3 linked regions of the Homo sapiens genome follow. The protein of the gene in region 1 interacts with the protein of each later gene in a biochemical or structural test. Each region holds a gene or a part of one and is shown on either strand. Other genes may lie near its edges.

Region 1 (3,746 bases):
AATAACTAGATGGGGCAGAGAGATCAAGGGCTTTGTTTGCTCTTTTTTTTTTTTTAATCAGACGGGGTCTCGCTGAGTCGCCCAGGCTGGAGTACAGTGGTGTGATCTCGGCTCATTGCAACCTCTGCCTGCCGGGTTCAAGCAATTCTCCTGTCTCAGCCTCCCGAGTAGCTGGGACTATAGGGGCCCGCCACCACGCCTGGCTGATTTTTGTAGTTTTAGTAGAGATGGGGTTTCACCTTGTTGGTCAGGCTGGTTTCGAACTCCTGACCTCAGATGATCCACCCACCTTGGCCTCCCAAAGTGCTGGGATTACAGGTGTGAGCCACCGCGCCCGGCCTATTTGCTCTTTTTAAGGTGGGAGAAAGAACGGCAAGCTCATCAGCCAGTGGGAATGATCAAGAGGGGAAGGAAACATGGATGATGGCTTGGGGGCAGGGGGTCATCAGCGGCTAGGTTCCAGGGGCTAAGGCTGGGCCTCAGGGGAAATGCCCTCCTCACCCCTCTCCTGGGCCTAGGTCATTTGCCCCAGCTCCGATGAGCAGGGAAAGGTGGTCGAGTCCAGGACCCGCCCACCCCACCATGCCCAACTGAGCTGCAGTGTTGGGAAGATAGAGGAGGGTGGTTCCTTCCACAGGTAAGCACACCCATTAATTTGCACTGTGCAGTAGCAGGTCTGGAATATTCCAGAAACAAATGAGGGTGGCTGCCTCCAGATATTTGTTCTTACCTTAGTTCTTCAAAAAGCTTGCTCCTTGTATTTTGGGTCTCAGCTCCAGACACCTCAGAGAGGCCTTCCCCGGCACCTGAGCTGAAAGAGCCTCCTCCGATGGCCCTCTTGGAAAGCCTCTCTGTTGTGTTGATGGCGCTAGCCGGGATCTGGCAGGGCCTTCTTTTCTCATTTGTTTGTACTTTATTGACTGTCTTCCCGCTAGAGTGTAAGCTTCCTAAGGGCAGGGCTTTGTCCTCTAGCACCCAGAAGAGGGTCTGGCACATAGTAGGTGTTCAACAAATTAAGGAGCCTTTGGTCAGTAGAGATGATATTTATAATTTGATACTTTCATATTTATTGTGGGCCGATTATGGTCAGGCATGTGCTCAACTCAGTTTGATACATGGTGGGAAATAATGAGTCCCCTAAGGGGCTCTGCAACAATGTCACCACCTGGCAGAGAACAGGGACTTCTCCTTAACCTGCTGCGCCCCAGTGGCCTGGACAATGCTGGAAAGACAACCATCCTGAAGAAGTTCAATGGGGAGGACATCGACACCATCTCCCCAACGCTGGGCTTCAACATCAAGACCCTGGAGCACCGAGGGTGAGCAGGGGCCCCATGGGAGGGCCAGCCCAGAGCAGGGCAGGGAAGGTGGGAGAGGGGCCCAGCTGACCCTCCTGTCACCCGCTCCTTGCCCAGATTCAAGCTGAACATCTGGGATGTGGGTGGCCAGAAGTCCCTGCGGTCCTACTGGCGGAACTACTTTGAGAGCACCGATGGCCTCATCTGGGTAGTGGACAGCGCAGACCGCCAGCGCATGCAGGACTGCCAGCGGGAGCTCCAGAGCCTGCTGGTGGAGGAGGTGGGCAGCTCCTACCCTTTGTGTACATGTATGGACGTGTGGCTGCCTTCTCAGCAGATGCCCAGAGGGGCCCGTGGCCCCAGAGGGAAACCAGAGGCAGGATCCCTTCCTTCTCTGGGCCCCCACCATGGGAGGCCCATGGTGCCAGAGGCAGGACACATGCTGTGGACTGAGATTGAGTTAACGTCCCTGTGGTGTTACTACGTCACTACCCTGAGCATCAGTTTCTATGCCTTGAAATGGTGATGATGACACCCACATCACTGGGCTTTAGGGAGGATAACCCAAGGCCAGTATGAAGCTTCGAGAGGCCATGGAGCCTGGCTCAAGAGTCTGACTCTTTGCTGTGTGACCTCAGCTGGGGGTGGTGGCACGCACCTATAGTCCTAGCTACTCTGGAGGCTCAGACAGGAGGATCAGTTGAGCCCAGGAGGTTGAGGCTGCAGTGAGCTGTGATCGTGCCACTGCACTCCAGCCTCCTGGGCGACAGAGCAAGACCCTGTCTCAAAAAAAAAAAAAAAGGAAGGGGCCAGGTGCGGTGGCTCACGCCTGTAATCCCAGCACTTTGGGAGGCTGAAGCGGGCGGATCACGAGGTCAGGAGATCGAGACCGTCCTGGCTAACATGGTGAAACCCCGTGTCTACTAAAAATACAAAAAATTAGCCAGGCATGGTGGCGGGCGCCTGTAGTCCCAGCTACTCAGGAGGCTGAGGCAGGAAAATGGCGTGAACCTGGGAGGCGGAGCTTGCAGTGAGCCGAGATTGTGCCACTGCACTCCAGCCTGGGCAACAGAGTGAGACTCCGTCTCAAAAAAAAAAAAGAAGGACACTTGCAAAGATAGTACAGAGGTCAGAGGTCCCCCATATACCCTTTACCTTGCTTCCCCATCTTACCTAACCGTGGCCTGTCCAAACTAATAAATCAACACTGGTGAATTACTATTATCTTAATTACAGATTTTATTTGAATTTCACGTTTTTCCACTAATATACTTTTTGTGTTCCAATGTTTGATTCAGGCTACAAAATTGCATTTAGTTGAAAATGAGGACACTTGTGAGAGTGAAAGGGGGGATTCTGCAGGCAGAGTGGGGACTGTCCTGGGCACACCGCACACATCTCCTATGTGGGTGGAGCAGGTCAGATGAGATCAGGGCCGTCAAATGCTGGTCAAGGCAGGTCAAGGCCCAAGGGTTAGACCCGTCCACCCACATCTCTCCCAATCACAGACACATATGTGGAAACAACTAGAATCAGAGGTGGACAGTGAGGCCTGTCGGGAGTGGAACGGTTAAAGGGCTGTGTGAACCCAGAAGAGGGAGAGTTCACATCCTCTGTGCATGTCTGGTCATCAGATTGGAGCAGTCTAGAACCACGGAGAGCTCAGGGATCATCTTATGCAACACCCCTCCCTGTTCATGGAAGAGGAAGCTGGAGCATGGGGACAGCGGTGTCCCCTGGGTGGTGGTTGGCTGGAACCAGAACCCTGGCCCAGGGCTGCTCCATTCATGTGGGCCAGCCTTGATGGCTACGTCCACAAACTCACTCCTGGGCCTCTCCCACCACCACGGGGCCTCACCTTGATCTTCCAGGTCGATCCTTCACCCCAGATGCTCTGGGCCATTAGAGGAGGGGTCAGGCTGTCCTCTGAGTCCCCACCCCACCCCTCTATCTTTTCTCCCCCAGCGCCTGGCCGGAGCAACCCTCCTCATCTTTGCTAATAAGCAGGACCTGCCTGGAGCACTGTCCTCTAACGCCATCCGCGAGGTGAGTCCAGGCCCCGGGACAGGCTCGCTGAGGGAAAGGGGCATACATTTATTTATTTTAAAAGCATTTATTAAAAATAACCAAAAAGGCTGGGTGCAGTGGCTCACGCCTGTAATACCAGCACTTTGGGAGGCCAAGGCGAGTGGATCACCTGAGGTCAGGAGTTCGAGACCAGCCTGACCAACATGATGAAACCCCGTCTGTACTAAAAATACAAAAATTAGCTGGGTGCAGTGGCGTGCGCCTGTAAGCCCAGCTACTCAGGAGGCTGAGACAGGAGAATCGCTTGAACCCAGGACGTGGAGGTTGCAGTGAGCCAAGATTGCGCCATTGTACTCTAGCCTGTGGGAAAAGAGTGAGACTTCGTCTCAAAAAAAAAAAAAAAAAGAAAGAAGTAAAATA
Region 2 (3,746 bases), on another chromosome or scaffold:
AGCACTTTGGGAGGCCGAGGTGGATAGATTTTACCTGAGGTCAGGATTTCAAGACCAGACTGGCCAATATGGTGAAACCCCATCTCTACTAAAAATACAAAAATTAGCCGGGTGTAGTGGCGGGTGCCTGTAATCCCAGCTACTCAGTAGGCTGAGGCAGGAGAATCACTTGAATCCGGGAGGCGGAGGTTGCAGTGAGCCGAGATGGCGCCACTGCACTCCAGCCTGGGTGACAGAGCAAGATTCCCTCTCAAAGAAAAAAACAACAAAACCAAACAAAACCTGCAGACATATATGTGTAGCGAAATAAAAGTGGCCAGAGTTTGCTAAGGTAGCGCAACACTGGTTCCTATTCTGTGGGTCGATTAAAACTATAACCTCAGAGGTTCTCCACTGTGTGGGGATTCTAGACCTAAATTAGGAGGAAATCCTAAGTTAGACAAAGCTAGACTCCCCTGAAGTCAGGTGGCCCCTATTTCTGGGCTTGGCAGGCAGTGCTGGGGCTGGACACCGAAGCAGATCGCGAGTGGGCTTTGCCTTATTTCCAAGAACGAGGTGATGAGACCGGGGCTCCCAGAGGCCAGCGATAACTGCAGCCGTTGCTCTCGTAGGTGAAGATCCCGGATCTGTTTTGTGGCCTAGAGATTGTCCCCGCGTTGCTCCACGGGGATCTCTGGTCGGGAAACGTGGCTGAGGACGACGTGGGGCCCATTATTTACGACCCGGCTTCCTTCTATGGCCATTCCGAGTTTGAACTGGCAATCGCCTTGATGTTTGGGGGGTTCCCCAGATCCTTCTTCACCGCCTACCACCGGAAGATCCCCAAGGCTCCGGGCTTCGACCAGCGGCTGCTGCTCTACCAGCTGTTTAACTACCTGAACCACTGGAACCACTTCGGGCGGGAGTACAGGAGCCCTTCCTTGGGCACCATGCGAAGGCTGCTCAAGTAGCGGCCCCTGCCCTCCCTTCCCCTGTCCCCGTCCCCGTCTCCGTCTCCCCGTCCCTGTCCCCCCGTCCCCCGTCCCTGTGCCCCCGTCCCTGTCCCCCTGTTCCCGTCTCCCCGTCCCTCCGTCTCCATCCCCCCGTCCCCCCATCCTCCTGTCCCCGTCCCCCCGTCCCCGTCCCTCCATCCCTGTCCCCCGTCCCCCTGTCCCCCTGTCCACATACCAATCCCCCTGTCCCCGACCCCCCATCCCCGTCCCCCATCTCCGTCCCCGTCCCCCCTGCCCCGTCCCCGTCTCCGTTCCCCCGTCCCCATCCTCCATCCCCGTCTCCCATCGCCGTCCCCCCGTCCCCGTCCCCCGTCCCCGTCCCCCCTGTCCCTGTCCCCCTTCCCCCGACCCCTCCCAGATCCTGGGGACCAATAAAGCCCGCAGCGGGTCTCGGCTGGCGTCCTGCGCCTCGTTCCTCCGCTCGTGGGGCTGCTTTCAGGGCCAGACGCACGGCGAGCTGTGCACGGACGTTTTTGCGGCGATTCAGGGGAAACGCACGCGGACCCGGTAGCCAAGGCCAAAGTCGGCGCAGCGCCCACCGCGGCCTCCGGGCCCCGCTCCCGCTCCCGCTCTGGGGCGCGCCACCACTCGGCGCGGGGCCCGTGTGATCCGCGCGGGTCCCAGCGTGGCGCGAATAAGTGTCAGGGCGGTTGGCTCTGAGGGGTGGGTCCCGGGGCTCGCCTCGCGCCCCCGACTGCGTGCTCAGGCCCCGCCCCTCCCCGTCCACGCATGCTGAGGCTCCGCCCCGCTCCGCGGTCCCCCGGTCCCACCCGCCCCCGCCCCGCCCCCGCCCCGCCCCCCGGCGTGTTGTGGCTCCGCCCCGCTGTCTCCGGCCCCACCGCAAGCCCTGCCCCTCCCACCCACGCGTGCCCGGGCCCCGCCCCCGTTGCGCGCAGCCCCGCCCCCTATCGCGTGCTCAAGCCCCGCCCTGGCGGCCCCCGGCCCCATCCCGAAGCCCCGCCCCCCCGCACACCGCCTGCTCAGGCTCCGCCCCGCTGTCCTCCGGCGGCGGCCTCACCCCGCAGCCCGGCCCACCGCGTCTCAGGCCCCACCTCCTGTCCTGCCCCGCCCACCGCGTGCTCAGGCCCCGCTGAGCGGTCCCGGCTCCGCTCGCGCCCTGTGGGGTCCACGGCGCGCTCTTCCAGAGCCTTTGGGACCCGTGCCCGCTCGCGTCCTCAAGTGCACGCGCCGTCCCGCGCGCGGTATTTTGGCGGCCGACGCGTTCCGTAGCGAGGCCGGCGAGTGGGGTCGGAGGTCGCGGGGCGGGGCCAGCGTCGGTTGCCGCCTTAGCGGGCGCCTCCTTTTCATCCCTCATCCTTCATCCCTGGCTTTCGCGCTCTAGCGGAGTGGGATCTGCGAACACGTGAGGCGGGGGCGCGGTCCCCAGGCTGCCGAGATGGCCCTGAGCGACGAACCGGCCGCGGGCGGCCCCGAGGAGGAGGCGGAGGACGAGACACTGGCCTTTGGCGCGGCGCTGGAAGCGTTCGGCGAGAGCGCGGAGACCCGGGCGCTGCTGGGCCGCCTGCGGGAGGTGCACGGCGGCGGCGCGGAGCGCGAGGTGGCCCTGGAGCGGTTCCGCGGTGCGTGGGCGGCGCCGCGTGCCCGCTTCCTCCCCCGGCCCGGGTTCGGCGCGCTGAGTGCACTTTACCGGGCGGGGACCGCAGCCCGGCGGCGCCGGCCGCTCTGCGAGGGCTGCCGGTGCGCGGTCCCGCGGGCCGTGGTGGGGCGCGGCCTTCCTAGGCGGGAGAGGGCCACCCCGGCGCGGCGTTAGGTGCACGGGGCAGACGCGCGCCTCCCTTGGGGGGACCGTGGCCCGCGGAGCGCCTGCTCTCGCACGGGGTGAAGCCTCTGCGGCCTCCCCGGGAGGCGGGGTGCAGAAGCCCTCCGTCCCCCGTCTCCGTCACTGGAGGAGGTCCCTGGGCTGGGGAGACTCGGGCCAGACCCCTCCGGACAGCTGGTCAGCCCTGCAGTGTGGACTCCCAGGCTTGCCTCCACCGAGCGCGGTTTCTGTGAATGTTGTGTGGACAGGGAGATAGGGAATGAGAGAGGGGGACGCAGGGAACAAACCTGCTGCAAACAAAGCGCGCCTCGGGTGGGGAGGGCAGCAGCCTGTCCGTTCCGTGGACGCCGTGGACAGAGCGGGCTGGCCGGGTCCGTGCCTCTGCAGGCGGGGTGGGGTGTAGGTACCCCTGTGGAGGCCATTCGATGAGTCTAAATTCTCCGAGTTCAGACCCACCTTTACCGCTGTCTATAATGGGTTATTTCCAAACAAGTCCTTAGGAGCTCATAGCTAAGTAGTTACATGGGGTTTTGTAATTCAGTAAAATCATCTTTGTAGACCCTTTGAGTAAGAAGAACTTTTGCATTATTTGGCCTTCCTCATTTTAGAATGACAGCGCTTTGATTTTAGGAGTCAGGCAGGGTGGGGGGCCTTGTGGGAGGAGTGCGGGTTCGGCGTCAGATCCTCCTGCCTGTGAATTCTGGCCCTGTCGCTTGGACCTGATACTTGATTGCCTGTTTCTTCGGGTGTAAGCTGGGGCGGATAACGATGCCTCTCGTGCAGAACTGTTCTGAGGGTGAGGGACCCTCATCCAGGGACCAGTGAAGCCAGATTTTTTGTTCCTGGTGTAACAGCCCAATGGCTTCTTCCTTTTTTTTTTTTTTTTTTTTTTGATACGAAGTCTTGCTCTGTTGCCCAGGCTGGAGTGCAGTGCAGTGGTGCGATCTTGGCTCACTGCAACCTCAACCTCTCAG
Region 3 (3,746 bases), on another chromosome or scaffold:
TGCTGGAAGTCAGGCAGCGAGTAGGCGGCAAAGCCCTGAGGCTGAGCCTTGGCCACCACCATGCCTCTTGTTTGTCAGTAGTAGAAGCACTTACTCCTGTGACTCTATTGCACTGTATTTCTCACAGTACATTTATTTCATTGTATGATTTGTTTCATGGAGATCTTGTATTCACCGAAACACTGTCTCGTCCCTGACAAGACAAAGTCCCTGGGCCTCAGTTTCCTCATCTGTACAATGGGAATAATAATGCCTAACTCACAGAATTGAGAGTTGAAAACAGTCCATAATTTCTAATACATTCTCAGTAAGTGAGAAGGCAAACAGCCTTCCTGCCCTCCCTCTCACTCTCCTCAGTCAGGGGAGACTGGCCTATGGGGCTTACTCCTCCCCTCCCGAGAGGGCCTGGCACCTACCTCTTCATCTCGGCAGCAAGCCCATTCTCCAGCAGGCCCATGGCCTTTGGGGAGAGGATGCCTTGAAAGTCAGAGTCAGCAGGGACGAAGGTGATCTGCAAGCAAAGGAGAGACAGCCTCTGTGCAGTTGACCAGGGTAGGGGGGCTACTGTCCCCTCAGGGAATTGGCAAACCTCTCCATGAGCTCTGGGAGACAGGCTGCACCACGGAGGCCTCCCTGCTTGACAGGAGAGGGGCCTACTTGGGGCACAGCACCAGCGGGAGGATGGACCTCTGTGCTCCTGCTCCCTTCCTGGTTCTTCATTCACTCTACAAACATTTATTATCTGCTGTGTGCAGGCACTGTCGCAGGCACTAGGAGCAGCAAGGAGTGAAAGAGAACCCTGTCCTTGAGGAGCTCACATCTTTTCATTTCCCAGGGGTCTTCGTCCAGTGCCCAGCACAAGCCTGGCACATAGTAGGTGCTTCATCCATATTTGGTGAATGAGTGGAAAGCAAGTCATTGTCATGTGTTTTTGCCACATGGGCTGCAGTGGGTGACAGAGAAGTTATGCCCGCCAGTCCCTGTCCCTGAACTTTCAGGAATCAAGAGGTCTCTGCAAGTCCAGCCCTAGGTGGGCACTGCGTGGTGCAGTCGGAGGCAGATCATGAAGGAGGCAGTGGGTGAGGGAGAGGAGCTGTGCCTGTGGGATCTGGGAGATGGGGTGAGGATCCCTCCTCTGCCAGATTCTCACTGTGGGCCCTAGGCAGGTCATCTCTCTTCGCAGTCTCTCTGTGCTCCTCTGTATAACGGGGCTACCCTCGAAGAGATACTTGCACAGCCATGTTCAGAGCAGCAGTATTCACAAGAGCCAAGAGGTAGATGCAACCCAAGTATCCACTGATGAATGAATGGATAAACAAAATATAGTCTATCCATATGATGAAATACTATTCAGCCTTAAGGATGGAACTTCTGACACATGCTACAACATCACTGAACCTCGAGGACATTATGCTGAGCAGAAAGACAAATACTGTATGATTCTACTTTTCTGAGGCACCTGGAATAGTCAAATCCATAGAGCCAGAAAGAAGAAAGATGGTTGCCAGGGGCTAGAGAGTGGGATAATGGGGAATTGTGATTTAATGGGTATAGAGTTTTAGCTTTACAAGACAAAAAGCATTCTGGAAATTGGTTGGATGACAATGTGAATGTACTTAGCTGTACTGTACACTTAAATATGTTTAAGACACTAACTTTTATGTTACGTGTATTTTACCATGAGTTTTAAAATGGGGCTAGTTACGCCAGTCTCCTGAGGTTGCTGTGAAAATTTCATGAGATCATATATAGGGAATCCCTCAGCATGGTCCCCAGCACATAGTAACTACTCAGTAAATCATAACTTGATGCTATTGATGATTCAGTTGTCTGACTTCTCTGAGTCTTGCTCTCCTCGGCTGAAAATTTTTCCAATAAATATTTGTTGAGACCCCACTGTATTATACCAGATTCATAAATAGCACTTCCCTATTCCCCTTCCCATAGAGCAAAGTGAGTAGAAGACACTTGTCTGCACTAGGAAAGCTCCATTCTGATGGGGAGAAGGGAATGATGGATGGAGGGGGCCTTTGTACTCCTATGAGGAGTGCGCTTTCTCTAGATGTCCAGAAATAAAACAGAGCTCCTGGGCAATGAAGAAAGACGCTGTCTCTACAAAAAAAATAAAAAAATTAAATAACAAATTTAGCTGGATGTGGTGGTGTGAGCCTGTCATCCCAGCTACTTGGGAGACTGAGGCAGGAGGATTGGTTGATCCCAGGAGTTCGAGGCTGCAGTGAGCTATGATTGCACCTCTGCACTCCAGCCTAGGTGACAGACTGAGCTCCTGTCTCTTAAAAACAAAAAAGAAAAGGAAAGAAATAAGGCAGGGGCCTGGGCTTCTTCCACCCCCGTTAAGGATGCTTTGTACTTCCCAGCTAGTACTGTACTTCCTAGAAGCTGCCTCTTCCTCTGCCTCATTACCTCATGGCCCAGTCAGCACCATCATCATCACCGTCACCATCATCATCACCGTCACCATCATCATCACTATCATCATCATCATCATCATCACCATTGTCACCATCACCATCCTCACCATCATTATCACTATTATCATCATCACCATTATCACCATTACCATTCTCACCATCACCATCCTCATCATCACCATCTCCTAATCACCATAATCATCACCATTGTCACCATCACCATCCTCACCATCATCATCTCATAATCACCATCTTTACCATCATCATTCTTATCAGCACCATCACTAACATCATCATCATCATCATCACCATCACCATTCTCACCCTCACTATCCCCACTGCACTCTCATTATCACCATCATATCATCATCACCACCCTTAGGAAAAGCTTGGAGAAGGAAAGGATGGGGCATCTTAAAATGCAAGTTTTTTGATGAGGAGGGACAGGCAGAGTTGAAGCTGGAGAGAGGATATCAGACCATGGAGACCACCAGAACACCAAACTAAGAAGCTTAGCCTTTCTCCAGATGCAATGGGGAGTCCTGAAGGACTCTCAGCAAGAGAGTACACTGTCAGATTTGTGTTTAGGCAGAACACTGAGCAATCTCCAGAGAGAGGGAGGCCACCAGTCAGGACCCTGGTCCTGGTCTCCAGCACAGCAGGCAGGAGTGAGGAATGGGGGATGCGTGGGCAGAGACCCTGCTCTCCCTGCCACTCCTTTCCCTGCTCACAGCTCCCCTGCCCCATCTTCACTAATGGGCTCAGCACCTCCAACTGTCCCATCCACTAGATTTGCCCTGATCCCTTCTCCTCTCTCATGCCTGAGGCCCAGCTGACCACCAAATCTGACCAGGTCTACTTCAGAAATTCAATAAGATAACCTGGGTGGAAGTGCTGGTGCTATGCCTAGCCACAACGGGTACTCTATGTGAAGTGAACTGTAAATGTCACCTTAGTTCCTACAGCTTTGTGTTTGAATTCTGCATTATTCCAGATGACTGTCAGCTCTCACCAAGACCAGAGAAGAAGCCTCCCCACTGGTATGGCTGCCCCCAGACCTTCCTTCTTCTGGATGTCTTTCTCAAACTGCAAAGCTGGTCGTGTCCCATTAACTAAAGGACAAGCTCCAAATTCCTTACCATGGCATCCCAGGCCCTGAAGAGTTGAGCCCCACTCCCTCGCTACCTTTACCTTCCTCCCCTCTGCCTCTCGTAGCCACAATGGCCCACTTGCCTTATTCTTTTACCACATTGCTTTGATCATGCTACTCTTCTGCCTGGAATGTCTTTCCCCATCTTCTCTGCTTGGTGAACT

Evidence for each region.
Region 2: the proteins of ARL2 (region 1) and TBCD form a complex in vitro, tested with the Homo sapiens proteins (2 studies listed by BioGRID and IntAct).
Region 3: the proteins of ARL2 (region 1) and BSND interact in a biophysical measurement, tested with the Homo sapiens proteins (one study listed by IntAct).

Annotation. Positions count from the first base shown.
Region 1 is NC_000011.10:65,017,156-65,020,901, forward strand, and holds part of ARL2 (ADP-ribosylation factor-like protein 2), read left to right. Parts: intron 1-1,208; coding exon 1,209-1,319; intron 1,320-1,349; exon of another isoform or gene 1,350-1,415; coding exon 1,416-1,578; intron 1,579-3,263; coding exon 3,264-3,344; intron 3,345-3,746. UniProt on the Homo sapiens protein: Small GTP-binding protein which cycles between an inactive GDP-bound and an active GTP-bound form, and the rate of cycling is regulated by guanine nucleotide exchange factors (GEF) and GTPase-activating proteins (GAP).
Region 2 is NC_000017.11:82,749,806-82,753,551, forward strand, and holds the start of TBCD (tubulin-specific chaperone D), read left to right. Parts: upstream 1-2,259; 5' UTR 2,260-2,388; coding exon 2,389-2,572; intron 2,573-2,686; exon of another isoform or gene 2,687-2,949; intron 2,950-3,746. Other genes in the region: FN3K (fructosamine-3-kinase), read left to right, coding at 612-950.
Region 3 is NC_000001.11:55,001,787-55,005,532, reverse strand, and holds part of BSND (barttin), read right to left. Parts: intron 512-3,746; coding exon 417-511; intron 1-416.